Homo sapiens: one gene and its partners. The protein of the gene in region 5 purifies or fractionates together with the protein of the main gene of each other region. This does not show direct contact. Each region holds a gene or a part of one and is shown on either strand. Other genes may lie near its edges.

Evidence for each region.
Region 1: the proteins of PGBD1 (region 5) and ZSCAN25 purify together in Homo sapiens (affinity purification with mass spectrometry; one large-scale study listed by BioGRID and IntAct). This does not show direct contact.
Region 2: the proteins of PGBD1 (region 5) and ZKSCAN1 purify together in Homo sapiens (affinity purification with mass spectrometry; one large-scale study listed by BioGRID and IntAct). This does not show direct contact.
Region 3: the proteins of PGBD1 (region 5) and GPR156 purify together in Homo sapiens (co-immunoprecipitation; one large-scale study listed by IntAct). This does not show direct contact.
Region 4: the proteins of PGBD1 (region 5) and KLHL13 purify together in Homo sapiens (co-immunoprecipitation; one large-scale study listed by IntAct). This does not show direct contact.
Region 6: the proteins of PGBD1 (region 5) and ZNF213 purify together in Homo sapiens (affinity purification with mass spectrometry; 2 studies listed by BioGRID and IntAct, with this or other methods). This does not show direct contact.

Annotation. Positions count from the first base shown.
Region 1 is NC_000007.14:99,613,603-99,619,745, forward strand, and holds the start of ZSCAN25 (zinc finger and SCAN domain-containing protein 25), read left to right. Parts: upstream 1-3,343; 5' UTR 3,344-3,414; exon of another isoform or gene 3,415-3,639; intron 3,640-4,532; exon of another isoform or gene 4,533-4,607; intron 4,608-4,922; 5' UTR 4,923-5,049; intron 5,050-5,445; 5' UTR 5,446-5,530; intron 5,531-5,958; 5' UTR 5,959-6,004; coding exon 6,005-6,143. UniProt on the Homo sapiens protein: May be involved in transcriptional regulation.
Region 2 is NC_000007.14:100,021,333-100,026,805, forward strand, and holds part of ZKSCAN1 (zinc finger protein with KRAB and SCAN domains 1), read left to right. Parts: intron 1-1,562; exon of another isoform or gene 1,563-1,722; intron 1,723-2,086; 5' UTR 2,087-2,174; coding exon 2,175-2,600; intron 2,601-2,821; coding exon 2,822-2,975; intron 2,976-5,473. UniProt on the Homo sapiens protein: May be involved in transcriptional regulation.
Region 3 is NC_000003.12:120,163,340-120,167,935, reverse strand, and holds the end of GPR156 (probable G-protein coupled receptor 156), read left to right. Parts: coding exon 1-904; 3' UTR 905-2,458; downstream 2,459-4,596. UniProt on the Homo sapiens protein: Orphan G-protein coupled receptor involved in the regulation of hair cell orientation in mechanosensory organs of the inner ear.
Region 4 is NC_000023.11:117,906,052-117,911,524, reverse strand, and holds part of KLHL13 (kelch-like protein 13), read left to right. Parts: intron 1-1,428; coding exon 1,429-2,224; intron 2,225-5,473. UniProt on the Homo sapiens protein: Substrate-specific adapter of a BCR (BTB-CUL3-RBX1) E3 ubiquitin-protein ligase complex required for mitotic progression and cytokinesis.
Region 5 is NC_000006.12:28,287,365-28,292,837, reverse strand, and holds part of PGBD1 (piggyBac transposable element-derived protein 1), read right to left. Parts: intron 1-5,473.
Region 6 is NC_000016.10:3,139,341-3,143,951, forward strand, and holds the end of ZNF213 (zinc finger protein 213), read left to right. Parts: intron 1-1,295; coding exon of another isoform or gene 1,296-1,348; coding exon 1,349-2,007; 3' UTR 2,008-3,464; downstream 3,465-4,611. UniProt on the Homo sapiens protein: May be involved in transcriptional regulation.

The DNA of each region.
Region 1 (6,143 bases), on a different chromosome or scaffold from region 5:
GGGCATGGTGGCGCACACCTGTAGTCCCAGCTACTTGGGAGGCTGAGGCAGGAGAATCGCTTGAACCCAGGAGGCAGAGGTGGCAGTGAGCAGAGATAGCGCCACTGCACTCTAGCCTGGTGACAGAGCAAGACTCTGTCTCAAACAAACACACAAAGAATGGAAATTCATGCCACCAGTGAAAGCTAGGATTGATGATGGATTTATTGCCAGAACTTGGGAAGAATTTTTACTAAAGCCCTATAAAAGTGGTCAAATAAAAAAAATTAAATGAAAATCAAATCCACAAAGATTAGAAACCAGTCTTAGCCAATTTTGGTGAGTTGAGCACTCTCATATACATTTGATGGGAATGTAAATTGGCATGAACTTTCTGGAAAGCATTTTATAATAGCATATGCATTAATAGGTTTAAAAATATTCATACCTGGTGGCCCAGAAGTTGAATTTTAGGAATTTATTCTAAGGAAATAACCAGGGGTGAGGTTAAGTATTTATACAAAGGAATGCTTGTTCCAGGTTATTTATAATAGCAAAAATAAAAGAGTATATTCTAGATTATTTCCCCCATGTTGAAATAATTTTTAAAAGTATAGTGTATTCAGAGGACAGAATATTATACAGGCAGTAAAAATGTAATTTTAAGTGTCCTATTTGGAAGAAATAAAAACATATAAATAAAGAAGCCTGGAGACATCCTACATCTGATAACATGGCAGACTAAATAGTTGGGCTGATTCGTCTGCCAAAAACAACAGAAATGATAAAATAAATAATAAAATCTAAAGATATCAGGTAACAAAATAGTAATGAATTATAAGATAACATCAAAGTAAAGAATAATACCTAGAGAAATCATCTTGCAGAGATTTGATTTTTTAAAACTATGCCTAAAGTTTACTCAAGGAAGAGCATCTGATAAGAGAGCTTTCCCCCCATAAACCAAGGACTGCAAAAGTGTGGATTATCAGAAGAGATCCGGTACATTCAGGGTGGTATGGCCATAGACAAGGGCTGGGTTATCAATGTAAGGGTGAGAGATAAGTCTCCTCTCCCGTACCCCTACCACCAGGAGCCAGCAAGGCAATTTGTCTTAGTGCCACGCTGGACAACCACAAAACCACAAAGATTTGTGGTTGAGAAGTTGCAACCACAAATCACCCCTCAATATTTGCAGCCCAAATTCATATTACTATTATAGCATGGTTCAAAAATCCTCAAATTATAAATTTGGTTTACAATGACCTTGGACTGGTGATGCTGACAAGAAAAAAATTTACATGGAAGAAAAACAATATCAACCCTCTCTAGATAAATTCACTTTATCCTGGAACTCAAAGAAATTTCACAAAAATGTTTCCAAGGAAAATGAGCAGCCTGTCACACAAGGAAACAAGGTACTGTGGTATGTTCGAGGAAGGTATGTTTGAGGAATGCCCCCAATTAATGTCCTGGGGACATTATTTAATGCTCTAGGGACATTATATAATGTCCCCAGAACTCATAAATCAATAAGAAAGAGATAAACAGCTTAATAGAAACACAAAGAAAAGTCCGTTCACAGAAAAGGGAAGGCAAGAAGTTAATGAAAGTAGGAATAATGACTGACCTCACTTATAATGAAGAACATGCAAATTAAAAAATGAGGTAACATTTACTTCACCTGTCAATTGGCAAAAATTAAAGCTGGATAATGGCAGAGATGATGAGATATGGGAAATGGATGCTGTTAGGTACTGCTGGTGGAAGTGGCACCATCAAAAACAGTGGAAATAGCAGATCACAGAAAGATATCTGAGGGGACTTCAGATCTCAGAATTATCAGGCTCAACTATATTTACTATGTACAAAGAAAAGCTTAAACATATCGGTAAATTCTTTTAAAAGATCGATCTAGAATATTTGGAAAAAATCAAATAGAAATTCTAGAAATGGAAAAAATATATTAATTAAAACAAAAATATGGGTGGCCAAGTGGGGAGGATTGCTCGAGCCCAGGAGTTTAAGACTAGCCTGGGCAACATAGTGAGACCCTGTCCTTACAAAACATTTTTTAAAGATTAGCTGGGTGTGGTGGCTCATGCCTGTAGTCCCAGCTATTTGGGAAGCTGAGGTGGATTGCTTGAACCCAGGAGTTGGAAGCTGTAGTGAGCTATGATAGCACCGCTGTACTCCAGCCTAGGTGACACAGCAAGACCTCGTCTCTTAAAAAACAAAACAAAACAAAACAAAAAAACAACAACTGTGGATTTTGTAGCACATTAGAAACAGCTGAAAAGTGGATTATTAATAAAAAGGTGAAGACATAAACCCAAGTCAAATATGGGCAGACAAGAAAAATATGAAAGTGGGACAGAGACATGGAGGATAAAGTGAGATGGTCTAACACCTATGTTATATTCTAGGAGTTCATTTACTCTATAAGTGTATATTTTTAGCAAATATTGTACCAGACACTTTGCAAAGTGCTGGAGAAGAGTAAGACAAGAGGGTTTCCTGTTTCCTGAGTGGATTCTGGAGTAACACTGGGCCACCCAGTTGAGACAGACTGCCTTCAGGCTGGACGCGGTGGCTTGCGCCTGCAGTCCTAGCACTTTGGGAGGCCAAGGGGGGAAGATCGCTTGAGTCCAGAAGTTGGAGACCAGATTGGGCAACATAGAGAGATCCCCCTCTCTGCAAAAAATTGAAAAAAAGTCCCAGCTACCCAGGAGACTGAGGTGGGAGGATTGCTTGAACTCAGGGCTTCGAGGTTGCAGTGAGCTATGATCTCACCACTGCACTCCATCCTGGGAGACAGAACAAGACTTCTCTCTCTCTTTCTCAAAAAACACAAACAAACAAACAAACAAAAACCCCCCACAAAAAACAGCTCCGATGCTGGCTCCTCCAGGAAGCCTTCCCTGACTACACATACACACACGCACGCACACTACCCGGGGTCAGGAGCCTCTTAAGTGAGCCGGTTAGATCCAGTGCGCCCCCTATCTCCTCTGCCCCTACGCCTCGCGCAAGGCCCTCGCAGCCGGAATAGTCGCGCATTGACCGACTGGACTCTAAAGCCCCTTGGGGCAGGTGCTGTGTCCAGTAGTGTATCTGGCGATGCACCGAGTCCTTTCCACGGAGGGCAAGCAGGTGAAATGGCACGGAAGTGGAAGGGGCCTAGCCACAGAGCGCCTCGAGCTGGGCAGTCAATCCTGGGGAAGCCCTGGTGGTCTTCGCCTCGCCGGGTTCGGAACAGCAGGCTGGGATCAGCAACCATCGAGACGCATCCGCCGAGACCTCCGAGCATCCTAGAGAGGACACGGAAGCGAGTCTTTCCTTACGCACCTGTCTAACAGCGTCCGCAGCTCACTTCCGGACCGCGGATAGCACTGGCGACCCTAGCGGGTGAGAGGCCCTTCAGGGCCGCGGCGGGTGAGAGCCTCTTCAGGGCCGCAGCGGGTGGCGGGCGAAGTGGTAAACGGGCGCGGGGACGGGTTTTGGTGCCGCTACGGGGCTCGGCGGCAGCGGGGTTGCAGTAGAGCCCGTCTCCCTCCGCTCAGCCCCGGCTGAGGGCGGCAAGTCTCTCAGGAGCTGCCTTCAGCGGCCCCGAGGCCCTGCGGGTCTGGACGCTGAGGGGCCGCCGCGCTGTAGGCTCAGGTAGGAGCGAGGCTGATCCCGCTCTGCCAGGCTTGGCTTAGTGCAGGGCTGGCCACGAACCCGAAGAGATCTTGAACCAAAGCAGAACTCTGTGCAAAGTGAAAGTAATCACATAGGACACTTATTTAAAGAATAGTGATGAGCCAGCCTGGTCAACATAGCGAGACCCTGTCTCTACAAAAATTGAAAAGTAGCCGGGCGTGGTGGCACGCGCCTGAGGTCCCAGCTACTCGGGAGGCTGAGGCAGGAGGATCGCCTGAGCCCAGGAGTTCAAGGTTGCACTGACTTACATTCATGCCGCTGCACTCCAGCCTGGGCAACATGGGGAGACCCTGTCTCTACAAAAATAAATAATTAGCTGGTCATGGTGGCACTCGCCAGTAGTCCCAGCTACTCGGGAGGCTGAGGTGGGAGGATCGCTTGATCCTAGGAGGCAAAGGCTGCAGTGATCGCACCACTGGTCTCCAGCTGGGGTGATAAAACCCTGAGATCCTGTCTCAGAAACAAAACAAAAGAGTCACAATGGGTGGGGGGAGATAAAGAATAGCAATGGGGCAATTTCTATTTGTCAAATGGCAGAGATAAAAGATGAATGAGGATCTTTCTTGCCTCCAGGGAATCTGTTAGAGGGAGACACATGGGTAAACATTTGCACTGTAGTGCATTAAATGCACTAGTGGAGTGAACCAATGCAATAGCTAGAAAGGAATGAAAGAGAAATCTCAATGTTGCAGAGTCAATGAATAGACTGAAAATATAAACTTGGTTTAAGTGGGGGTAGATAAATACACAAACTCACAATAGAATATTTAGCAGAAGCTTTGGGGTGTGCCTCCTGCCAGCTGCCCATTCTCTGCTCCAGTCAGGTGATCTTTCCGTTTTCTGACAAGCAGGATCTCCTTCCCCTGGTGCTTTGGACTTCCAAGTCTGTCTTCCCAGTCTAGGTCTTCCGCATAATCCACTTGGAGGTAAATAGGACTCATTCTCCAGTCTACTTCAAGCCTCTTCTTTTCCTTGAGTACTTGGACTTAGATTAGTTTTCTCTCTTTTTGACTTCACATTTTTTTTTCAATCTGTACCATGTATTTTGGGAGGCAGTTATCATCTAGTCTCTTTTTTTTCTTCTGAGAAGTAGGAGGAGTAGCACTCATCCTACAGAAGTGTTTTAAGTATTAGATGAAATATGTGTTCACATGCTTTCTAAAGAGTAAAGCCTGTACAAGTTAGAAATCTTTAGGTCATTTGTCATAATGGTATATATGTTGCTCCATTGTCTTTTTCAGGTTGAGCGCACCATCACATCTAAGCCATCAGCAAGTTTGTTGGTTTTAATCTCCAAAATACGTCTTGATTTTGTCTGACTCTTTGCCACCACCCTGATCTAAGCCCTTATCATCTGCTTGAATCACTGTAAGTGCCATTTCCCTCTTGCCACCTCTAGCCTATTCCCTGTCAACACACAGGCAGAATGACTTTTATAAAACATGTAGTTCCTCGCTAAAGTAAGAAATAAGAATAAAGTTCATAATTCTTTCTGTGGCGCAGGCTCTGGGTGATCTGGTTTCTGTCTGCCTCTGCCACCTCTTCTGGTGCAGCTCTGCTCGTCACTGCTGAAGCCACACTGGGATATGGCTTGTTCTTGGACACCCAGAGTAATTTCTTAGCCTCAGGGCTTTTGCCTGGAATGCTCTTAGAATGACTGACTCATTCTCATCCTTGAGTCAGCCTGGTATCATGTCTTTAGAAAAGCCTTCTTCAAGTCAGTTGCCCCCTGTTAACAGAGCACCCTACTTATTTTCTTTCTAGAACTTGTCTCCACTTGCAGTTTTTAAAAGAGTTGCTTCCATTTGACTTTTTCTGTCTGCTGTACCAGCATATGAGTTTCAGGAGGGTAAGCTCCCAGTGTGTCTTGTTTTCTATTTTATTTGTTGTTTCTGCCTGCCTCTTGTGTGTGTATATGTGTGTGTTTGTGTGTTGCATGTATGTTTCCTTTAGTATTGGAAGAGTAGGCCCTGGTGACTCACCCAGTTATAACCCATTATATATTATTCTCTGATTGTAGTGTTATTCTCCAGTGAGATCCTAAGTTATTTGTGGGTATAAAAGCAAAATCTTAGACATTTTCTGTTTAGTCTCTGTACCTAATAGTTGCTTAGCAAATGATTACTATGTTGAATTGACCTGACTTTTGGGATCTGTGTTCAGTCTTTTGAAAATGCCTTGTAAAAGGTAATTACTGTGTTCTCCAGTGGAATATTCCTTGATGTAGAGACAGAACTGGGATGGGCTGACCTTTCATGTGTCTCTTGTTCTCAAAAGGGTCATTGATGCAGTCATTCTCAGTCTCCTCGGAGGGAGTCTGAAGATGCTTAAAGAGCATCCAGAGATGGCGGAAGCTCCTCAGCAGCAGTTGGGTATTCCTGTGGTGAAACTGGAGAAAGAGTTGCCATGGGGCAGAGGAAGGGAGGACCCTAGTCCAGAGACTTTTCGGCTGAGGTTTCGGC
Region 2 (5,473 bases), on a different chromosome or scaffold from region 5:
GCTGGTCTTGAACTCCTGACCGCAGGTGGCCCCCTGCTCCCTGCCTCAGCCTCCCAAAGTGCTGGTATTACAGGCATGAGCCACCTCACCCAGCCCCAAGTTTCTAAAATGTGAACATAGATGGGTTTTTCCTGGATACTTGACATCATTTTTGGCAGTTAAATTACATAACAATGGAACCATTTCATACAGCTGTTCCTGTAATTGCCCTTTCTTCACACTTTCTTTAAAGAAGCTGATTACTCATTGGTGACTTTTTCTTTGATTTAGACTGACATTGGTTTTTACCTCCTAATGTGGCTAAAACCTTACTCTAGATAGAAGCTTCATCTGTGCCATTTTCTTCTTGTTCACATCTGTTTATATTATTAGTGTGTCCTGTAATTGCAGTTTCTCTATAAGAATCTTTTTTTTTTTTTTTTTCCTTTTCCTGATAGGGCTTTGCTCTGTCACCCAGGCTGGAATGCAGTGGCGTGATCGTAGCTGACTGCAGCCTCAAACTTCTGGTTTCATGCAATCCTCCCACCTTAGCCTCCTGAGTAGCTGTGACTGCAGACACAGTCCCCATGCCCAGCTAATTTTTTTCTTTTTCATAGGGACAGGGTCTTGCTATGTTGCCCAGGCTGGTCTCAAACTTCTGGCTTCAAGCATCCTCCTGCCTCATCCTCCCAAAGGGCTGGAATTATAGGCATGAGCTACCATATCTGGCCACAAGAATCTTTAAAGCTGCTTGTCTCTTTTATGACAGAGTCTCGCTCTGTGGCCAGGATGGAGTGCAGTGGCGCGATCTCGGCTCACTGCAACCTCCGCCTCCTGGGTTCAAGTGATTCTCCTTCCTCAGCCTCCCAAGTAGCTGGGACTACAGGTGCCCGCCACCGCGCCCAGCTAATTTTTCTATTTTTAGTAGAGACAGGGTTTCACCATGTTGACCAGGATGGTCCCGATCTCCTGACCTCGTGATCCGCACGCCTTGGCCTCCCAAAGTTTTGGGATTATAGGCATGAGCCACTGCGCCCAGCCAAAGCTAGATTTAGAAATCCATTATTTCACATAACTGGTCTCAGATAAACCAGTCTACATCACAATGTCTAAAATGAACAACACCTGTGACAGGTCAGCACAGACTAAGTAAGTGTATTAGTGTCAATTTATAGCTTAATTTCTCTCTCTTTTAAGATACAGACATTCCAATTATTTTCTTTCTGTATCCTTTGCGGATCATCTTGTACTTTGGAAACCACAATTTAACTGCCCAAGTCACTCATAAAAATAGCAAAAGTAGCTGGATGGTACAAAAGTAGGTCCCAGGGCTTCAAATTTGGTTGAATATTGACTCCAGTAGGCAGCCACCTACTACTGAGCAAACCTAACCCTCAGTTATGTCATTTGTAAAACAGCACTTAACAGTTTGGCCGACCTGCTAGGGCTGTTGTAGGGACAAAAGAAGATGGTGCGTGTACTGCTTTAAGCCTGGCACCTGGCACTCTGCTAACATTCAGCTCTCTGGGCTGGGCACTGTTAATGCTCCATTTCGTAACCTGCTGTCAACCTGCAGGTAAATCACTCTGACTCCAAGCAAACACCCTGAGGGTGGAGTCGGCCTGTTTGAGGTTTCTGTTTGCAAATCTTGATATATGAAGTGACAGTGGAGATTGTACAGTTTTTTCCTCGATTTGTCAGGATTTTTTTTTTTTTGACGGAGTTTAACTTCTTGTCTCCCAGGTAGGAAGTGCAGTGGCGTAATCTCGGCTCACTACAACCTCCACCTCCTGGGTTCAAGCGTTTCTCCTGCCTCAGCTTTCCGAGTAGCTGGGATTACAGGCGCCTGCCACCATGCCCTGCTGACTTTTGTATTTTTAGTAGAGACGGGGTTTCACCATGTTGGCCAGGCTGGTCTTGAACTCCTGACCGCAGGCGATTGGCCTGCCTCGGCCTCCCAAAGTGCTGAGATTACAGGCGTGAGCCACCACCCCCGGCCTCAGGAGCGTTCTGATAGTGCCTCGATGTGCTGCCTCCTATAAAGTGTTAGCAGCACAGATCACTTTTTGTAAAGGTACGTACTAATGACTTTTTTTTTATACTTCAGGAATAGTAAAGAAACACATCATAAAACCTCCCAGGACATAAAGGTGAGCACAGACCCTGTTTGGATCAAGTCAGTTCCTGGAGCCTGAATGATGACTGCTGAATCACGGGAAGCCACGGGTCTGTCCCCACAGGCTGCACAGGAGAAGGATGGTATCGTAATAGTGAAGGTGGAAGAGGAAGATGAGGAAGACCACATGTGGGGGCAGGATTCCACCCTACAGGACACGCCTCCTCCAGACCCAGAGATATTCCGCCAACGCTTCAGGCGCTTCTGTTACCAGAACACTTTTGGGCCCCGAGAGGCTCTCAGTCGGCTGAAGGAACTTTGTCATCAGTGGCTGCGGCCAGAAATAAACACCAAGGAACAGATCCTGGAGCTTCTGGTGCTAGAGCAGTTTCTTTCCATCCTGCCCAAGGAGCTCCAGGTCTGGCTGCAGGAATACCGCCCCGATAGTGGAGAGGAGGCCGTGACCCTTCTAGAAGACTTGGAGCTTGATTTATCAGGACAACAGGTAAAAAGAGGTGAAACCTATTATGTGTGAGCAGGGCACAGACGTTGAAACTGGAGCCAGGAGAAGTATTGGCAGGCTTTAGGTTATTAGGTGGTTACTCTGTCTTAAAAATGTTCTGGCTTTCTTCCTGCATCCACTGGCATACTCATGGTCTGTTTTTAAATATTTTAATTCCCATTTACAAAGTGATTTACCCACAAGCCCAACCTGTCTGTCTTCAGGTCCCAGGTCAAGTTCATGGACCTGAGATGCTCGCAAGGGGGATGGTGCCTCTGGATCCAGTTCAGGAGTCCTCGAGCTTTGACCTTCATCACGAGGCCACCCAGTCCCACTTCAAACATTCGTCTCGGAAACCCCGCCTCTTACAGTCACGAGGTAAGAAGCAAGGTTTCATTTAGGGGAAGGGAAATGATTCAGGACGAGAGTCTTTGTGCTGCTGAGTGCCTGTGATGAAGAAGCATGTTAGTCCTGGGCAACGTAGCGAGACCCCATCTCTACAAAAAATAGAAAAATTAGCCAGGTATAGTGGCGCACACCTGTGATTCCAGCTACGCAGGAGGCTGAGGTGGGAGGATTGCTTGAGCCCAGGAGGTTGAGGCTGCAGTGAGCTGTAATCATGCCACTACTCCAACCTGGGCAACACAGCAAGGACCCTGTCTCAAAAGCTACTTACAGAAAAGAATTAGGCTCGGCACGGTAGCTCACACCTGTAATCCCAGCACTTTGGGAGGCTGAGGCGGGCAGATCACTTGAGGTCAGGAGTTTGAGACCAGCCTGGCCAACATGGTGAAACCTTGTCTCTACTAAAAATATGAAAATTAGCCAGGCATGGTGGCACATTCCTGTAATCCCAGCTACTCGGGAGGCTGAGGCAGGAGAATCACTTGAACCCAGGAGGTGGAGGTTGCAGTAAGCCGAGATCGTACCACTGTGCTCTAGCCTTGGTGACAGAGCGAGACTGTCTTAAAAAAAAAAAAAAAAAAAAAAGAATTAATTAAAAATTTAAAAAAAAATGAAAAAAAGCTGCATGCTTGTTTTTTGTTTTTAGTTATTCTACATTGTTGTCATTATTACCAAATATTGGGGAAAATACAACTTACAGACCAATCTCAGGAGTTAAATGTTACTACGAAGGCAAATGAACTATGCGTAATGAACCTGGTAGGCATTATTTATTGAATTATCAGCATTCCAGATGTCCAGCACATTTTTAATAGGAAAGTATTGGGAACAGATGTCATTATTTTCAGCCTAGGTTTTAAAACATTTTAGTATGTCATGAATTATCTTCAAAAGGATCATAAATCTTTTTTAAAGGTCCATTTTATTTAAAATATATAAAAATAATCACTGCACTGCAGCCTGGGTGACAGAGAGTCTGTTTCCAAAAAAAAAAAAAAAAACTATAGCATCAGTCTTTTCTAGGTTATTTTCAGAAATTTCAAACAATGGGAAAAGAATGGAAGAACTTTTGAGGGGAGTTGAGGAACACGAAAAAAGATCAGTTCACAGTCATATAAATAAAAAGTCATGTTACTTGTTTTTTCTCTTTTGACGGAAATATGTAATACATTTATCCAGTTTTAAAATCAAAGTATGTGCTTAGAATGTAAAGACAAGGAATGCTAAAAGTACATTTATCACTTAATGGCAGGGATAAGTTATGGTAAGTGCAATGTTAAGTGATTTTGTTGTGCGAACATCATAAAGTATACTTATACAAACCTAGATGGTCTAGCCTTCTCCACACCTACGCTACAAAGCTGTACAGTATGTTACTGTACTAAACACTGTAGGGAATTGTAACACAGTGGTAAGTATTTGTGTATCTAAACATCGAAAAAGTAAAAACAGAGTATAAAAGATTTTTAGCCCAGGCACAGTGGCTCACGCCTGTAATCCCAGCACTTTGGGAGGCCAAGGTGGGTGGATCACTTGAGGTTAGGAGTTTGTGACCAGCCTGGCCAACATGTTAAAACCCGGTCTCTACTGAAAATACAAAAATTGGCTGAGCGCAGTGGCTCACACCTATAATCCCAGCACTTTAGGAGGCCAAGGCAGGCAGATCACCTGAGGTCAGGAGTTCGAGATCAGCCTGACCAACGTGGAGAAACCCCGTCTTTACTAAAAATACAAAATTAGCCAGGCCTGGTGGCAGGTGCCTATAATCCCAGCTACTCAGGAGGCTGAGGCAGGAGAATTGCTTGAACTCAGGCAGCAGAGGTTGCGGTGAGCCAAAATCGCACCATTGTCATGCCATCGCACTCCAGCCTGAGCAACAAGAGTGAAACTCATCTCAAAAAAAAAAAAAAAAAAAAAAAAAGTACACCTGTATGGAACACTTAACCATGACTGGAGCTTGCAGGACCGGAAGTTGCTCTGGATGAGTCAGTGAGTGAGTGGTGAGTGAATGTGAAAGCCTAGGACACTACTCTACCATAGACTGTAGAAACACTGTACACTTAGGCTACACTAAATTTATCTTTAAAATTTTTGTTTCTTCAATAATAAATCAGCCAGGCATGGTGGCTCATGGCTTAATCCCAGCACTTCGGGAGTCCAAGGTGGGCGGATTACTTGAGGCCAGGAGTCTCAGACTGGTTTGGCCAACATAGTGAAACACTGTCTCTACAAAATAAAAAAATTAGCCAGGCGTGGTGGTGCATGCCTGTAATTCCAGTTACTCAGGAGGCTGAGGCACAAGAATTGCTTGAACCTGTAGGCAGAGGTTGTGGTGAGCCAAGATTGCACCACTGCACTCCAGCCTGGGTGACAGAGTGAGACTCTGTCTCAGAAAAAAAAAATAAATAAATAAATACAAATAATAAATTAGCTTACTGTAACTTTTTTACTTTATGAACTTTTTGATTTTT
Region 3 (4,596 bases), on a different chromosome or scaffold from region 5:
ACCAGAAAGAGGCGGCTCAGATCCCCAGAGACAGAGGCATCTGGAGAACTCAGAGGAGCCCCCAGAGCGGCGGTCACGGGTTAGTTCAGTAATCAGGGAGAAACTTCAGGAGGTCTTACAAGATCTGGGCCTGGGCCCTGAGGCTTCCCTCTCCACCGCCCCCTCTTGTCATCAGCAAACCTGGAAGAACAGTGCTGCCTTCAGCCCCCAAAAGATGCCCCTCTCCAAGGAGCTCGGCTTTAGCCCTTACATGGTGAGGAGAAGGCGGGCAGCTCAGCGGGCCCGCTCACACTTTCCTGGCTCTGCACCCTCATCTGTGGGGCATCGGGCAAACAGGACTGTTCCTGGGGCACACAGCAGGCTACATGTGCAGAATGGGGACAGCCCCAGCCTGGCCCCACAAACTACTGATTCCAGAGTACGAAGACCTTCTTCCAGGAAGCCTTCACTACCTTCAGATCCTCAAGACAGACCAGGTACCCTGGAGGGCAGCAAACAAAGCCAGACAGAGCCCGAGGGGGCTAGAGGGAGCAAAGCAGCCTTTCTTCGCCAGCCTTCTGGTTCTGGCCGGGCCCCAAGTCCTGCTGCCCCATGCCTCTCCAAAGCCTCACCTGACTTGCCTGAACAGTGGCAGCTGTGGCCCCCAGTGCCCTCAGGCTGTGCCTCCCTGTCTTCTCAACACAGCTATTTTGATACTGAGTCCAGCAGCTCAGATGAGTTCTTCTGCCGCTGCCACCGGCCCTACTGTGAAATCTGCTTCCAGAGCTCTTCTGACTCTAGTGACAGTGGCACATCAGACACTGACCCTGAGCCTACTGGGGGGCTGGCTTCCTGGGAAAAGCTGTGGGCCCGCTCCAAGCCTATTGTGAACTTCAAAGATGACTTGAAACCCACGCTGGTGTGAAAAGCAACAGAGCTGGTCTAGACACAGAGGTCAGTCCAAGAGAAGCTGTACCAAGGCCCACAGGAGAAGAGCCAATTTCTGGTCTTTGGGGAACAGATTAGTGCCCTGCATTTGACCAGCCCATACCATGTTTCAGCTAGGCTCACTGTGTTACTTTGAGTACTTCTTGATCTATAAAAAGAGAGGCATTGCCTGTCCTGTTACTACCTCGCAGCCTTACTATAAAAGACTCCAGTTGAGTGACTATGAAAGACACTGACTCCTTGGATAAAAGGTGCTGAATGAACACATAGGATTTTCTGTCCAGGTCAGCCTACATTCTGTAAAACTCTTAATATATTCAGATGGATGGCTGAATGGACAGACAGATGGAGAGATGCATGGGAAATTTCTGTAGAACTTGAGGTGTGGACTGTGACCCATCAAACTGGCCTTTTGGTGGACAGACCTACCAGGAAGATAAGTCTCCTACATCCTTGGGCCTCCCACTCCTGGAAGGCAGTGGTTTTATTTCTGCTGAATGTTGTGAACAGCACCTCCCTAGATTCCAGCTTCTGGCCAGACCCAGCTCAGAGCCACCCCTACACCACTATTTCTTGATGGTGTCTTTCCACCATTATGGCACTTTACCCTCCTCTCTGAGACAGATCTCCATGCGCCCGCAGGCTTCCCAGATCTCTCCCCTGGGATCGGATGTACCTGAGGTCCTGACTGTCCCCACTGTCCCCTTGTCCTGTGGCTCATCCTCGATTCACCCACTGATGCAGTTTTGTACTGCGGGGAGGCACACACCAGCAATTTCTGTTGGGGTATGGGAGAACCTGTTGGTCAAGAGTGCTTTTGGTTCCATTGGGGTTACATGACTACCAACAGACACATAAACCTGGAAGCCAAATGGAGAAATAAAAAGGAAGACACGAGGGACACGAAAACAGGAAAGAAAACAGGATTTGAATATTTCACTTGAGTCCAGCATAGTACTTGGCAATATCATATTTTTGTGATTCCTTTTGATAACCCTGTGAAGTAGACACTTTCATTTTTACAGACAAGGATTATGAGGCTTAGAGAAATGAGGTAGTTTCCCGCAACATCACACTGCTGGACAGAGATGTACACACAGCTCCTGGGACTCAAGTAGGTGGGTTTTCCCAGGGACACATGGCTTCATGTGTTCTTCTGGGAATGGCAGGTGACGCTTGGCAGACGAGACAACAAAGCAAGGCTCATGTAAGAAAGCTGGGATGTGCTCCCCTATAGTCCAGAATAATAGACCTGGGTCCTCACCTCAGGAAACGGGCCTCCACTTCCTCACTGCCAAAGGCCACACTGGCACCTCCCAAGGGAGCTGGGGAGCTGGTGAAGGATGAGTGCGAGGAACTCAGCCACCACCAGAGCCACAGGGAGAGCACACCTGGGTCCACTGTGCTTATTGCTGAGCTGGCTGTCATGTCCAGGCTGTCCCCTGCCCCGAGTCCTGTGTATACATCTGTGGGTGTGCACATGTTTGCATGAAGGAATTCAGGCCTTATTAAATATTCTCAGAGGGGGGCATTTGGCTCTAAATGTATCATCAATTTATCATGGAATCTTGGGGGCTGCTGACACCCCTGGACTCTCCAGGCACTGAACCATGAGGCCCTCCTGGAAGCACAGCTTCTTCTATCATCTACTTTTAAACAGGAATTTCCTAATTTATTCTGTGCATGGGTTTGCAGTTTCTTGTGCTGTGTGTGTGCTGTCCAAGTGGTACCATAATAAAAGAGAAATGACTCCCGAGAGGAGTCTTTTCAGAAACTGTAATCTGGGGCTGGCCAGGAGGGGCCCGGAGAAGGCTGACCCACCCAAAGAAGGGGAACCAGAGAAGCCATCAGAGCTGCTGCCGGGCTACCCTGGGTCCCAGTGTACCTTCTACCAAAGTTCCATTTGAACAGATTCTTCTGTGTTCTCCCTAAGAAGCCTCTTATCCCAGAAACACTCCCTCAATGGACATAGGAAACCCTGGAGACCCTGGACTCTTCCTGCCCCTGGGGGTCCTGTGGCTGGGCTCCCCCTCCTGCAGCTCCCTTCCTCCCAGCATGCCACCACTAGCAGCCCACCATTCATTCATGTGGACTCTAAATCTGGCAATCCTTCTAGCCTTCTCACTCTGTCTGCTTCTAGAACCTTAGTCCCACCATCCCCGCCCTTCTACATCTCCATCCTTCTGTTTAGAATTTTTTTTCCCACTTTGTGCCCTTGTGAATTATTCATCCTTCAAGGCTCAGGTGGAGCATACATTCTTTCTTCAACCTTTCCCAGCCATCCCCAAAGAAAGCTGATTGATTCCCTAGTTAAATAAGGAAGGATGGGCTGGAAGCAGTGGCTCACGTCTGTAATCCCAGCACTTCGGGAGGCCGAGGCGGCCGGATGACGAGGTCAGGATTTCAAGACCAGCCTGGCCAACATGGTGAAACCCCGTCTCTACTAAAAATACAAAAATTAGCCGGGCGTGGGTGGCACATGCCTGTAATCCCAGCTACTCAGGAGCCTGAGGCAGGAAAATTGCTTGAACCGGGAGACAGAGGTTGTACTAAGCCTAGATGGTGCCACTGCACTCAAGCCTGGGTGACAGAGCAAGACTCCGTTTCGAGAAGAAAGAAAGAAGAAAGAGAAAAAAGAGAAGGAAGGCTGTCTTAGGGTCTGTATTTTGGACTCAACTATATAGAGGCTTCTGTTATCCATTTGACCTAGAATGACTTTGTAACGCTTGCCAGACCTGATTGAAATTTATCATTTTGTTCAAAAGCAATGTGCAAACACCATAACTGTGCTCAACAAAATGTTGCCACCAAATGTATCATTTACTCTGTGCATCACCCCTACCCTTCCCCACCTCCTTTCCTAAATTTTTACCTAAGATCAGCTAATCCAGTGATGAAATCCTTAAAGGGCTGAATGTGCCATGACTTTTGGCATGCTCTTGGTTGTTCTGCTCTTGAAGAAAGGGCAGTAAATTGTGCAAAGGAATCCTGGAGAAGTAAACATTGCCTCTGCTGCTGTCATCTGAGCTATACATGTCTCTGTTGGTCCTAAGGCATAGCATGGAGCCAGGCCTGATTCTAACCCCAGCATATGTCCTCTGCTGTTGAAAATCTTGGAATTTCAACATTTGGATTCCATCCTGATCCCAATGTCTTTCCCTGTCCTGGTCTGCCACAAACCCTCTTTCCTTAAAGGTTCAACTTGGCCTTCCTAGAGTTCATAGAGGAGAAAAAAAGCATCAGAGGCAGGAGGCCTGTTTTTAAAGAATGATATCACTTTGAAAGAGGAAAAGAGAAAAGTCAATGCAAGTTCTATAAAATCTCTTCTGTATCTGTGTTTATCGTATTATCTTTACATGTGTCTCCTCCACAGATTCCAAGCTCCTGAAAGCATTGAGCATGTCTTCTCCATCGTTTTTCTCCTCTAGAGTAGCCATTACAGATCTTTGCACAAAGTATACACCCAACAAATGCTAGATGGGTGGATTTCTGGGTAGATAAATGGGTGAAACAAAGGAAGGCAAAGTTTCTGTTTTGGGGCCAGAGCGGAGGAGCAGGAGGAAAAACACGCATCTGGTTCCACTGCCTTCCGGTGAGTTAACAGCATGAAACTACATCACCTGCAGACCCAGGAGTCACTGAATTCTGAAAATGACAGTACTTTAAGTT
Region 4 (5,473 bases), on a different chromosome or scaffold from region 5:
ATACCTAATGTAGATGACGGGTTGATAGGTGCAGCAAACCACCATGGTACGTGTAATACCTATGTAACAAACCTGCACGTTCTGCATGTATATCCCATAAGTTAAAGTCTAATTAAAATAATCTATGAAAATAACAATGTGTGTGTGTTAACCTTAGAGATTTCAGTGATATTATATCCTAACTGGGCTGTCATTTTATGCGGAGGAGTAATGTTTTTAGCTTTGTTTCAGTTTTTAAAGAAATGTCAACAGGAGGATTATTTTATTTTCTCTTAACCATCTGCCAAATCTGTTAACTATACAGGTGTGAGGTTAACAATACATTGATAAAGTTTGTGTGATATTGAGGACACATAACCTGACAAAATTTTAAAAACAACCAAACATTTAAGTCTTTTGCCTGTGATCTGTGTCTGTTTGTATACATACACACTGGCATTTTTTATTGTAGGCTTGTTTTTGTGGTTTGTTCTTTGTATTATATTTGCTAATATTATTTTTCCTATTTTTCCTTTGATGAGTCAGTTATTAGAGCATTGAAAAGAGGTTCTACTGAGGAAAGGCCTCTCTGTCACTTCTCTTCTTTGTCAGCTTTTCACTTTATGGTATATTTTGCTCTATGGTGGGGAGATGGTTCTGGGCTCATGTTGACGCCAGAGAGAAACAGAATGTGCTGAAAGTAAGAGTGGCTAAGGAAAGCTGTGTTGCCCAGATGGAAGCAGTCATCACAGATACCAAAATCTCATTTACATGAGAGATTTGTTGTAGATATACCCCTCTGCCCTTAAGAAAGACATTTCCTTGCTTATATTTCCAGATAAATAATGTTGAAAATTAATTTGCCCTAGGGATAATTATCTTATTAAATTATTTTCATTATGAGTGATAACTTTGAAGGAACCAAAATGAATGATAGTAATGAGTGATGCCTATTTACGTGAAAGGGAAATCTAGGGTTTGGGTATTAGAGCTTTTCTGTTCATGGATCTGCTAGCTGTGTGGTATTTTTAAGAATAATGACTAAGAAGTGGATTGAGATGAATCATAATAGAACAACCTTCTATTTTCCCAAGTTTCCATCTGGCAGGAATTTTATCAGTATTTTGGGGGTGGGGGTGGGATACATTTTTGAGGAGAGAAGAGTAACTGGTTTGGCCATATTCCAGTTATAACATTGTTTCTTAGAGTAGCTTCTAACTTACTGACTTTGATCATTTTCTTTTAGTCAGCCTTCTAGTGGATTAAGTAAAGGTGGTTTGCAAATTATCTGTTTGTAGATCATTGATACATTTAGATAAGAATCCTATTTGTATCTATTTGAACATTAAAAGCATAATTTACTCTTATTCTAGAACAGGTATTTGTGCTATCAAGATGTGATTGCCATGAAAGTAGTCATGTTTTAATTTTTTTTAATTGGCTTAATAGGTCACTTTAGACAACTGTGTTGAAGTTGGACGGATTGCCAACACCTACAATCTAACCGAAGTGGATAAATACGTTAACAGTTTCGTCTTGAAGAATTTTCCTGCATTGCTGAGCACAGGGGAGTTCTTGAAACTCCCTTTTGAGCGTCTTGCCTTCGTGCTTTCCAGTAATAGCCTTAAGCACTGTACTGAACTTGAGCTCTTTAAGGCTACCTGTCGTTGGCTTCGCCTGGAAGAGCCTCGGATGGACTTTGCTGCAAAATTAATGAAGAACATACGATTTCCACTGATGACACCACAGGAGCTCATTAATTACGTGCAAACGGTGGATTTCATGAGAACTGACAATACTTGTGTGAATTTGCTTTTGGAAGCCAGCAATTACCAAATGATGCCATATATGCAGCCAGTTATGCAGTCAGACAGGACTGCCATTAGGTCTGACACCACTCACTTGGTTACACTAGGAGGAGTGCTGAGGCAGCAGCTGGTTGTCAGTAAGGAATTGCGCATGTATGATGAAAAGGCCCATGAGTGGAAATCGTTAGCCCCCATGGATGCCCCAAGGTACCAGCATGGCATCGCCGTCATTGGAAATTTTCTCTATGTGGTTGGCGGACAGAGTAATTATGATACAAAAGGAAAAACGGCAGTTGATACAGTCTTCAGATTTGATCCTCGATACAATAAATGGATGCAAGTTGCATCTTTAAATGAAAAGCGCACCTTCTTCCACCTAAGTGCCCTCAAAGGATATCTGTATGCAGTTGGTGGGCGAAATGCAGCAGGTGAACTGCGTAAGTGCATTTATATTAAGCATAGAGACAAATTTCTTCACTCAGAAATTCTTATCAAATCATAAAATAAGCAGTCCTGTAAAATCAGATAAAAATGTAGTTAGGGTTTTATTTTAAAACTATTTTTCTGAGAAAATATTGAAGACCATCTTTATGCCTTATCTGGGCATATATCGTTGGCAAGGGAACAAATTGTACGTTACAAATACATCAGTATATTGTAGCATATTTCACCTGTGCAGTATATATGGTCTTCATCTTGAAGGTTCATCTAAAGAGTATACTTAGCTCATTTAAATTATAATAAGGTCTTGGATAGAAGTTTGGCATGTTTTCTCATTTTCTGCTTTTAAAAGGCCATATGATATTTTACTGAACAGGTTACAATCCTTCATTACAGAAAACTTTCATTGTTTCTTCTTTTACAAAATATGTTACCTATTAGTGGCCACAAAGATAATTTTCTTTATAGATTAAATGTACAAAGTTCAACATTATCCAAAGTTTGTTCACTGTGAATATTATGATCTATGACTGTTTTAAAAATAATTCTGTTGACGTAATATCAGATAGTTTTCTTTTCCATAAGCCCATCTGGTAAGCTTTATTTGATGGTCACCTTTTTGTCTTCCCAGTATAAAATTGGTCATAAATGTACTTTGATGTAGAATACTTTGGCTATGTAAATTAACCCAAAAAGGTAAAATTTTATTATTTCAGATAAAATTGGGATAGTATAATTTTTCCAAAAATAAAGGCAGGAAGTCCACATTTTATGTTGTGACATATATTTGTCATTACCATTATTGTTTGGCCTTGTTTTCAATTATTTTATTCTCTATTATAAATAGAGTCTGTCACAGGGAGGGGAACATCACACACCAGGGCCTGTCTGGGGTTGGGGGGCTAGGGGAGGGATAGCATTAGGAGAAATACCTAATGTAGGTGACAGGTTGATGGGTGCAGCAAACCACCATGGCACGTGTATACTTATGTAACAAAACAGCACGTTCTGCACATGTACCCCAGAACTTAAAGTATAATAATATAAATAAATAAGTAAATAAATAAAAAATACAAAAAAGACAGAAAGACAGAAAGGAAGAAAGAAAGAAAGAAAGCCAGATGTGGCTCATGCCTGTAGTCCTAGCTGTTAGGGAGGCTGAAGCAGGATTGCTTGAACACAATAAATAAATAAATAAATAAATAAATAAATAAATAAATAAATAAATAATGTCCTTGTAGTTGACCAATTCCAGGCTCCATAGAGCTGGGAAAGTTCAAAATATTGGCATTGGCTCTGGATAAGTTCAGAGTAATTCTCAGAATCTTTATTTTTCAATATTCTAAGAAATAAAAGATAGTTTAATGTATTTGAGACTAAGCTATTTATCAGAGAATAGAATAACTGTTCTCAGCTTTTATACTTTCCTGTTTATAAAACCCTTTCTTGTTAGTGACATGGTCTTTTTCCTGATCTTTTCTACCCAAAGTTTTTTTTTCTTTGTTGTTACAATGATATTTTTTTCTAAGACCAGATTTTCTAGATTGTTGGACTATGTCGCATGATCATGAACTGCATAGGTTTTCCAATATATTTTAATAATTGGACTTTTAAAAGCAGTTAAGGCATAAGTGTCCTTAGTGTACAATTGTTCTTTAGGCCTCCTCAGTCAACCTACACACATTATTTTCATGTTATTATACTATTTTAAATTTGCGGTATCTGGAAATATCTAGAAGGTGCAAGTAGTGACTTGGTTGTTTCTTAGAAAATCCCTGTATAAGATAATGTTTTCTTAAATATTTTCTTCACAAATAACAGGTCATTAACTTGGTCAGTCTTCTTTTCTCAAAGGAAGTAGCTCCGTTTTTCAAAGTCAGTCCTTGCTTGTTGATATTATCACCCCTGTTAATATGCGGCTACTTAGCTTTCAATATATAGTTCCTAATACTAATTAAAAGCCATATTCTTCTGGGAGTTTTTAATCTTCAGGCCAAGGAGAGTCATTACATAAAACCAAGATGCTAGAGGCTTCTTTCTTTGAACCTATCCCAACTCTCTTTCAGCTGCTCCTATGGTATACCCATCTAGGAACTAGAAATAGACCACACTGTTGGGCAAGTGGCTCATACACAGGAATCCTTGCTCCTGACCTTCAGAAACCACCCCTCCATCTCTGATTAAAAACAGTCTTCTGTGTTTCATTTTGAAAGGGAAAAGAAACAAGGAAATCATGCTTTTCTTAGGGTATTCCTAAATTCATATTTAGGCTTTAACAATAAAATTTCTAAAGCTTAACCTAAGGATAATGACTTAAAAAAATTTCCCCTCTAATGGTAAATATAGGTCCATTTTAATCTTATTTCATAAACTGCATTTAAAAAAAGGCACATGTCATTATAATACAGGCACAAACCATCTATTCCAAGAATTCTAATTCTAGTTATCATCCAATTATTTGATATTTTATTCCATTTGAAATGATCTATAGATTACAAATCTATAATGACCTCATAGATTTGTAACCTATAAGTAGCTAAACTTTTGTAGAAAATGATTGCGTCCCTTAAAATCAGCATACCCATCAAACGCATTCTGTACTAAACATTTTATTATATAATATATTGGAAGTTTAAAAAATATTTTGTGATTGACTTAGTAAGTGCATTCAAATTTAGAGTCTTGATTTCAGGAGAAAAAAGGCCAAAAAGAGTCATTAGATAAAGCCAAGAAGCAAGAGGTTTCATTTGTTTCTGATCCACTCCACCCCCTTTGAGTTCTTTCTATGTTATACTCAAATAGAAGCAAGAAGTAGATTGTCTTGTCACGTCACATCCTGTATTACGGAGGTAACCAAACTTGATGAAACCTGCCTTGATTACTATTGCTCCCAAAGAATAATATTAATGAAATTTCCTGAATTCTATCCATGATCGTGTTTCTCTTTATATAAATAAAAAATGAATTTGTGTTAGTTGGCATTTCCAGTTTTCTTGGACCCATTGTTTTTGCAGAATAGCAGATTTTGATTCTAAAGAAACTCTTGCCTATATTTCTGAATGTTCCTGCCAGAAACTGAGGTTTTAACATTTCCCCTACCCTACAAGCGCTTTTTAAAAATAGAATTCCTCCTTCAACGCACACATTAACATCTGTTATAATAAATTAACATTCCCATTGTAACTGATTAAGTTGAGACATTCATATGCCTATGTAAATAGAAGGAGGTGATGGGAATGGGTGGC
Region 5 (5,473 bases):
ACAAATCTTTGCCTCAGTGATCACATGGCATTCTCCCTGTGTGTGTTTTCACTTGGGCATTTTTCTTTCTTTTTTTTCAACCCCTTGGTCAATTTGCAAATATGGACTTCTTATAAGAATATGAGTCATTAGATTAAGGGCTCACCACATGAATTTTTTTTTCTGATTTTTGTGAAGAATGTCATTGGTATTTTGATAGTGATTACACTGAATCTGTAAATTGTTTTGGGAAGTATTGTCATTTTAATAATATAAATTCTTCCAATCCATTAGAATGGAATATCTTTCCAGTGTTTTTGTGTCCTCTTCAATTTGTTCCATGAGAGTTTTAGTTTTCCTTATACAGGTCTTTCACTTCTTTAGTAATTAAATGCTAAATTATAAATTATAAATAAAATACTAAAAAATATAAAATGCCTAGGGAATTTAAACACTAAATTTAACTTAATTTGGTGTTTAAATTTTTAGTATTTAAATTCCCTAAGTATTTTATATTTTTTGTAGCTTTTGTAAATGCGATCATTTTCTTGATTTCTATCTCAGATTGTTCACTATTGAAGTATATAAATGCTACTAATTTTTGAGTGTTGATTTTTTATCCTGCAACTTTACTTAGTTTGTTTATCAGCACTAACAGTTTTTTTGGTGTAGTCTTCAGGTTTTTCGAGGTATAAGATTATATCATCTGCGAACAGACTAACCTGACTTTTTGCTATCCGGTTTGGATGCCATTTATTTCCTTCTCTTGCATAATTGCTCTGGCCAGGACTTCGGGTATTATGTTGAACAACAGTGGTGAGATGGGCATTCTTATCTTGTTCCAGTCCTTAGAGAAAAGGCCTTCAGTTTGATGTTAGCTGTAGGTTTGTCATATATGGCCCTTATTTTGAGGTATGTTCCTTTTATACCAATTTTGACAAGGGTTTTTATCAAAAAGCAATGAATTTTATCAAATGCTTTTCAGCATCTATTGAAATAATCATATGGTGTTTGTTCTTGATTATATTAATGTGATATATCACATTTATTGATTTGCATATGTTGAACCATCCTTGCATCCCTGGAGTGAATCCCACTTGATCATGGTGAATGATCTTTTTAATGTGTTGTTGAATTCAGTTTGCTAGTGTTTCATTGAGAATTTTTGCACCTATGCTCATCAGTGATGTTGGTCTGTAGTTTTCTTTTTATTTTGTATCCTAGTCTAGTTTTGGTATCAGGGCAATGCTGGCCTCCTAGAATGAATTTGGAAGTAGTCCCTCCTCTTCAATTTTTTTTTTTTTTTTTGAAGAATTTGAATAGGATTGGTATTAGTTCTTTTTAAATGTTTGGTAGAATTCAGCAGGGAAGCCAACAGGTCCTGGGCTTTTCTTTGATGGAAGACTTTTTATTACAGATTCTATCTCGTTACTTGTTATTGGTTTGCTGAGGTTTTCTATTTTTTCATGGTCCAATCTTGGTAGTTGGCATGCATCTAGGAATTTATCCATTTCTTCCAGGTTTTCAAATTTATTGTCATAGTTGTTCATAAGTCTCTAATGGTTTCTTTGTATTTCTGAGGTCTCAGCTGTTATGTCTTTTTCATTTCTGATTTTATTCATTTGGGTCTTCTCCTTTTTTGTTTGTCCAGCTAAAGACTTGATTTTGTTTATCTTTTAAAAAAAATCCAACTTCTTGTTTCATTGTTCTTCTGGGTTTTTTTTTTTTTTTTTTGGTCTCAATTTCAGTTATTTCTGTTCTAATCTTTATTTGTTTCCTTCTACTAATTTCAGTTTGGTTTGTTCTTGCTTTTCTAGTTCCTTGAGGTGTATCATTAGGTTGTGCATTTGATGTCTTTTTACTTTTCTGATATAGGTGTTTATTGCTATAAATTTCCTTCTTAGTACTGCTTTTGCAGTATCCCACAAATTTTGATATGTCACATTTTCTATTTTCATTAGTTTCAAGACATTTTTACATTTCCTTCTTAATTTCTTCCCTGACAAATTAGTTGTTCAGAAGCATGCTATTTAATTTCCACGCGTTTGTGTAGTTTCCAAGGTTTTTCTTGTTATTGCTTTCTAGTTTTATTCCACTGTGATTAGAAAAGATACTTGATATGATTTATATTTTTTAAAAATTTGTTCAGATTTGTTTGTGGCCTAAGATATGGTCTATTCTTATGTCCCACGTGCTGATGAAAAGAATGTGCATTCTGTAGCAGTTGGGTTACATGTTCAGTAAATATCAGTTAGGCTTATTAGATCTAGCATGTAGTTTAATTCCATCGTTTCTCTGTTGACTTTCTGTCTGGATGATGTGTCAATTACTGAGAGTGGGGTGTTAAAATCTCCTACTATTATTGTATTGCAGTCTAACTCTCCTTTTAGATCTATTAATGTTTTCCTTATATACCTGGGAGCTCTGGTGTTGCATGCATAGGTATTTATAATTGTTATATACAGCCGGGCATGGTGTCTCACGCCTGTAATCCCAGAACTTTGGGAGGTCAAGGTGGGCAGACTGCTTGAGGCCAGAAGTTCAAGCCAGCCTGGGCAACATGGCAAAAACCCAGGTCTACAAAAAATACAAAAAATTACCCAGGCATGGTGGCACACACCTGTGGTCCCAGCTACTTGGGAGGCTGAGGTGGAAGGATCACTTGAACTCGGGAGGCAGAGGTTGCAGTGAGCTGAGATGATACCACTGCACTCCAGCCAGAGTGAAAGAGTGAGACCCTATCTCAAACAACAACAACAAAAAACCTCTGTGGCTAAGTGATTTTCTCTTATAGTATGCCTTCCTTTGTTGCTATTTTTAGTGAATTTATTATAGGTTTTTGCATTGTAGTTATCATGAGGCTTACAAAGAAGACCTTCAGATATAATAAGTTATTTTAAAGAGATAACAACTTATCTTAGATCCCAAATACAAGAGTAGAAACAAAGGCAGAAACACACAGAAAAAAATTATATGCTTTAATTCCATTCCTCTAGATTTTGACTTTTCGTTGTCTCAATTTATATCTTTATATTACCTATCTCTTAACAGGTTGCTAGCCATTATTGTTTGTCTTGTTTTGTTTTAAAGATATGGTCTCACTCTGTCTCATGTCTCCAGGTATAGCATCAGGATCTTACCATGTTGCCTGGGCTGGTCTCAAACTCCTTGTCTCAAGTGATCCTCCCACTTCAGCCTCCCAAAGAACTGGGTTTACAGGCATGAGCCACTGTGTCCAGTCCTATTATTGTTTTTGATAGGTATGTCTTGGGGCTTCACAGTTGTGAGTATACTGTATGTCACTATTACAGTAATAAAGTATTCTGGGTTTGTCCATGTACTTAATTTTATCAGTGACTTTTATGCCTTCAAAAGTTTTCTTTATGCACATTAGTCTTCTTTCCTTTTAGACTGAAGAATTCTTTAGCATTTCTTGTAAGATGTGTCTGGTGGTGGTGTACTCTCTCAGCTTGTTTGTTTGGGAAAGACTTTCTCCTTCATATATGAAAGATAATTCTGCTGGATACAATATTCTTGAATGTCAGTTTTTTTCTTGGAGTACTTTGAAAATGTCATTCCACTTTCTCCTGGCCTGTATGATTGCCATTGAGAAGTCTATTGCCAGACAAGTTGGAGCTCCTTATTTGTTTCTTGTCTCTTGCTGCTTTTCAGATCCTCTCTTTTTCCTGGACAGTTGAGAGTTTGATTATTATATGCCTTGGAGTAGTCTTATTTGGGATGATTCTGTTCAGTGTTCTCAGATCTTCCTGTACCTGGACATTTATATCTTTCACAAGTTTTGTGAAGATTTTTGTTATTATTTCTCTATTTTTAAAATTTATTTTTAATTTATTTTATTTTAATTTTTTTGAGATGGAGTCTTGCTCTTGTTGCCCAGGCTGGAGTGTAATGGCATGATCTCGGCTCACTGCAACCTCCATCTCCCAGGTTCAAGCGATTCTCCTGCCTCAGCCTCCCGAGTAGCTGGCATTGCAGGTGCCTGCCACACCTGGCTCCTTTTTTTTGTATTTTTAGTAGAGACGGGGTTTTGCCAGGTAGGCCAGGCTGGTCTCGAACTCCTGACCTCGTGATCCACCCACCTCAGCCTCCCAAAGTGTGGGATTACAGGCATGAGCCACCACGCCTGGCCTATTCTTTTTTTTTAAATAGATACAGGGTCTTGCTGTGTTGCTCAGGCTGGTCTCAAACTCCTGGCCTCAAGCAATCCTCCTGCCATGGCCTCCCAAAGTTCTGGGATTACAGTTGAGAGCCACTGCACCCGGCCTATTGTTATTTCTTTGAATAAGCTTTCTATTCTTGCTCTTGCTCAGCTCCAAGAGCAGACTGTTTAAAGGATGGCTGCCTCTAATGTGTGGTCTCCTTGCACACACTTGATTATCCATCATTCCACTTTCTGCCATGAGCTAAAGCAGCATGAGATCCTAACCAGATAGGCTGATGATCTTGGACTTCCCAGGTTGTAGAACTTTGAGCTAAATAAACCTCTTTTTAAAATAAATTACCCAGTCTCAGGAATTCTGTTATTAGCAACACAAAATGGACTAAGACAGAGCCTGTTTCCAAATCAGGTCACATTCACAGGTACGTGGGGTTAGGATTTTCATATATCTTTTGGAGGGACATAATTCAATTTACAACATCTAAGCCTTACTTCAATTAAGGGCCCCACTTTCTCTGTCTAGTCTTGTATTATCTGACTCAATACTAGTTTCATTTCACTGTCCACCTATACCATTGCTCTTTGATTTTCTTGGGCTTCTGGTCTTCTTATTCCTCCTTAATTTGAACTTACTAATTATATTTCAGTGCAAACACCTGACTACGTTGTTATTTCCCTAGTTATAATCACATCAAGCACTTGCATTTTGAAACACTACTTTTAAAATAAATAACTTTTTTGTTTCTACATTATACCATTAAATTACATTTAAGGGAATTATGTTGATTTTCAGAATGTGCATGAGTAGGTTTTATTTTCTAGATACTTCTTATCAGGAAGTATTTGTTAATAACAGGAGGCACTGGGTCTGATAGAATTAAAAATTAATTAGAAGCCATAGAAGAGGACTGAGCAAGTGTCTTGAGGAAACTGATGTGGCAGCAGTATGCAAGAGGACTTAAATGAGAGAGTTATTTTTTTTTTGTAAATAAATGACTAGGAAAATGAATGAACCACTAATAAGAAAAAAAACCAGAGTCCATTTTGTGAAGAAGATGTTAAGTATTACCTTAGATATATAGAATTTCCATTATTATCACCAAGCATTAATTGCATACATGCTGAATATAAAGTAGTGTGAGAAAGGGCCCTTATTCTAAAGCTGGGGAGATAAACCAGAGACTTCAAAGGAGAAAATATCAGTTACTCAACATCAAATGAGTGGAGCACTTTCTGAAACCAGGAGCCTCACTCCACCCCTCACTCCCATGCCTTGAGATTTGGACGTGCCTCCTGAACAATGAAATGAGGCAA
Region 6 (4,611 bases), on a different chromosome or scaffold from region 5:
CACAACCTAGTGCATGGAAGTATTGTCCCCATTTTACGCATAAGGGACCTGAGACTCAGGTCAGTGGATGCTGAAGGGACACAGCTGGGACTTGGATCAGGCACAGTTGTGAGGCCACCTTGGGCTGCTAGGAGCAGGGGTGCTGACGGGGAACCCCAGCTGCTCACCAGCCTGGGCCCCTGCTCGTCAGAACTGCACTTACCAGGTTCCTCTCCATGCCAGGCCCCTTCTCAGCACCATCAGGGATCATCTTGTTCAGTCACACTCCCAGGAGGATGGGCTGCGACCTCTGTCCAGATCTGTGTTGAGTTTGGAGAACTAGAGCCTGCGTGGTGAAGGGAGCCACACTAGCTAGACCAGTTTGGCTCCTCAGTTTCCGACTGTGACGGTTGGGAAAAATTTTCTTTCTTTTTTTTTTTTTTGAGATGGAGTCTTGCTCTGTCGCCAGGCCGGAATGCAGTGGTGTGATCTCAGCTCACTGAAACTTCCACCTCCCGGGTTCAAGCAATTCTCCTGCCTCAGCCTGAGTAGCTGGGATTACAGGCATGAGCCACCATGCCCGGCTAATTTTTTTGTATTTTTAATAGAGACGAGTTTTCACCATGTTGGTCAGGCTGGTCTCGAACTCCTGACTTCATGATCCGCCTGCCTCAGCCTCCCAAAGTGCTGGGATTACAGGCGTGAGCCACCGCGCCCGGCCCTTGAAAAGTTTCAGAATTACTATAAATCTGTTCTGCTGTGGAGCTTGATATCTGGGGTTCAGAGTGGGACATTGGATCCCAGTGTGGCCTGCAGGGCACAGATGGCTTAGGGGGCTGGCCCATGCAGGCGGGATCAGAGGCTTATTCAGACTGCTGCTCTGCCGAATTTTTTCATCATCCCTGATTTATTTGGGTTTTTGTTTGTTTTTGAGACAAAGTCTCGCTCTTGGAGTGCAATGGCATGATCCCGGCTTACTGCAACCTCCGCTTCATGGGTTCAAGTGATTCTTCTACCTCAGCCTCCTGAGTAGCTGGGATTACAGATGTGCGCCACCATGCCCTGCTGATTTTTGCATTTTTTAATAGAGACGGGGTTTCACCATGTTGGCCAGGCTGGTCTCGAACTCCTAACCTCAGGTGATCAGCTCGCCTCAGCCTCCCAAAATGTTGGGATTACAGGCTTGAGTCACTGCGCCTGGCCAATCATCCCTGTTTTATAGATGAGGAACCTGAGAATTCAGCTGTGTGAACCCAGGGCTTTCTGAACCTGGAGGCCAGGGAGCTTTCCCCAGCCTTGTTTCTTCCTCACCTCAGCTCTGGCCCCAGAACCGCGTGGGACTGAAGAGGTCGCCTCCTTCCCCTTGCAGGTTTTGGGCTCAAAGGCCAAAGTGAGAAGTCCCTGCTGCAGGAGATGGTGCCGGTGGTGCCAGGCCAGACAGGCAGCGACGTGACTGTGTCCTGGAGCCCCGAGGAGGCTGAGGCCTGGGAGAGCGAGAACCGGCCGAGGGCGGCCCTGGGCCCAGTGGTGGGCGCGCGACGGGGGCGGCCACCCACTCGCCGGCGCCAGTTCCGGGACCTGGCAGCCGAGAAGCCGCACAGCTGCGGGCAGTGTGGAAAGCGCTTCCGCTGGGGCTCGGACCTGGCGCGGCACCAGCGCACGCACACGGGCGAGAAGCCACACAAGTGCCCTGAGTGCGACAAGAGCTTCCGCAGCTCCTCGGACCTGGTGCGCCACCAAGGCGTGCACACGGGCGAGAAGCCCTTCTCCTGTTCCGAGTGCGGCAAGAGCTTCAGCCGCAGCGCCTACCTGGCCGACCACCAGCGCATACACACGGGCGAGAAGCCTTTCGGCTGCAGCGACTGCGGCAAGAGCTTCTCGCTGCGCTCCTACCTGCTGGACCATCGGCGTGTGCACACCGGTGAGCGGCCCTTCGGCTGCGGAGAGTGCGACAAGAGCTTCAAGCAGCGCGCGCACCTCATCGCGCATCAGAGCCTGCACGCCAAGATGGCCCAGCCCGTGGGGTGAGCAGCTGGCTTGGCCGGAAACCCGGGGGAGGCCCAGCCACGGCACATCCTGCTTTGTTCACCACTGGGACTCTCCTTCCATCTGTGGCCACCTCCCGGGCTGTCCGAGGGACCCCAGGGTACCTCACACTCGGAGCTCGCCTGCCCTGCTTGGCTCTGAGGACCTGCCCAGCGCTCAAAGGGAACGGAAGCCTTCCCCTCCCGCCCCCGATCTTGTCCTCTTTCCCCCTTCTGCGCCTAGCGTTCCTCTTCCCCTCTAGTTTCCTGGAGCCCCAACACATTCCTGGCAGGGACAGCAGGGTGGCAAGGACTCAGGTCTAGGTCCCTTCCCAGAAGCCCCCGAGCCTCATTTGACTGTGTGGCTCTTTGGCCCCCACCCTGTGGGGTGGGTCCATGGGTCAGGCCTCTGCCCTACCAACCTGTGCCTTTCAGTGGGCGTGGAGGACTGGCCTTGGCCCCCCAGGGGGCTGCTGGACTTTGGGAGAGACAGCCCACACCTGTGGGACCGCGGGTCTTAGTCACGGCGGCAGGGGCTTTCTGGCCCCCTCCCACTCCCGTTTCCAGGCCATGACCACTCTGCCCTGTCCTGGCCATACGGACTCGGCCTGCCTTTGCCCTCGGCCTACTTGCCCTAGCATGAGGCTCTGAGAGCCACCTGCCCACCAATCTGGTGAGGATAATGGTGGCTCCAGCGACAGGAGGCCAACCCTGGAGACCAAGAACAGGGCGCCTGGCTGCCATCTTTTCCTCCAGAGGTGGGGCTGCACCAGACTCAGCACTAGCACTCCATCAGCACTAGCACCTCACTCCATCAGCACTAGCACCTCACTCCATCGGCCCCGGCACCCTGCTCCATCGGCACTGGCGCCCTGCTCCATCGGCACTAATGCTCCACTCGGCGCCCCACTCCATCGGCCCCGCTCCATCGGCACTAATGCCCCACTCGGCGCCCCACTCCATCAGCACTAATGCTCCACTCCATTGGCACTAACGCCCCAACTCCAGCGGCACTAATGACCCGCTCCTTTGACATTGGTGCCCCACTCCATCAGCACTAACGCCCTGCTCCATCGGCACTGGTGTCCCACTCCATTGTCACTAACGTCCGGCTCCATCGGCACTACCACCCCGCTCCATCATCACTATGTCCAGCTCCGTCGGCACTACCACCCTGCTCCATCATCACTACGTCCAGCTCCAACGGCACTGGTGCCCCATTCCATCGGCACTAACGCCCCGCTCCACCGGCACCAGTGCCTCGCTCCATTGGCACCAACGCCCAGCTCCACCGGTACTGGCTCCCTGCTCCATCGGCACTAACGCCCTGCTTCATTGGCACTTTGCTGCTGCCTCCTGAGCACTGCCTTCCATGAACAGGGACAGACCAGAGGCCCTGCAAGGACTCCCCCTCAGACCTCCAAAGGGCAACAGAAGAGTATTAATAAACGTGAAAACTTACCTCCAGGCTGTTCTGTTCTTTCGGTAGCTGGAGGGTGGGGATACCTGGAATATATGCCCCTTGCCCTGGCCTTGTGTCCTGGTGGCACATGCTGCTGCACCGTGACCAGGCGGAGCTGCGTCCTTGGCGTCCAGGTCGGCTGGGCCCCAATGGGCAGCCGTGTCCCCTGGGACTCTTGTCCCCCTGTGTCAGCTAGTGCCTGCCCTGCTCTGGGAGCACCGTCGGTGCTCCAGCAGAACGGGGAGCTGAGCAGGACTCAGGGTCTTCACCAGGCCACTCCTCTCCCACAACTGTGAAAGGAAGAAGGGCCCATAGACGCTGCTTGGTCAGTGGTGGGACCCTCTTGCTGCGTGTTGGGGATCTGGAACTCAAGGCTGCCCCAGGCTGAGTCCCTTGGAGGAGGGGCTGACAGCGGGCTTGCCCTTCCCACCAGCCCCTGACATCCAACTTCTCCCTACCAGGAGCCCCAGGCCGGGACCCACCAAGGGCTGGTGGGTGCGTGGTCAAAACTAGTGATCATCCAGGCACGACCCCTCCTTCCACCCATGCTGGTTCCTTCTCTTTCACCTGCTAGTGGCCTCAGGGCCCCTGGCTGAGGGGAGGCGGGGGCCGGTGGACAAGACGCTCTGGTCCCTTGGTAACAGGTGTGCATGTGCCAGCCCTCTCTGCCCCTAGGCCTTTCTTAGCCAACCTTCCATGCACACATCATCCTGCGGTCACTGTCATGGTCTCCGTTTCCCGTAAGAAGCAAGCAAGGTCTCGCTGTGGACAAGGCTGATTCCAGTTGGTGATTTTTACCTCTGGGGGCCTGGTGCTGTGTGCATGCGTGTGGCGGGTGGCCGGGATGGTACAAGGACTTCTTGGTGGCGGTGGCTGGCTCCAAATGGAGACACTCGGGTGTAACGAGATCAGATAAGCACGTAGGCCAGGAGCTAAGAATAGGATTGAGCACAGGTTCCTGGCTCGGGTAGGGGCATGTCAGTGCCAGCAAAGAAGTCACCAGCAGGAGCCAGAGAATGAAGCCCAGGCTGGGAGAGCGGGGCCAGGACCCAGGGTTCCAGGGATGGGGCAGAGTCCAGCTCAGCTCATAAGCAGAGCTGATAGTACTCGTTAGGGTAGAGGGCAAGGGTTAGGACCCAGGGCACT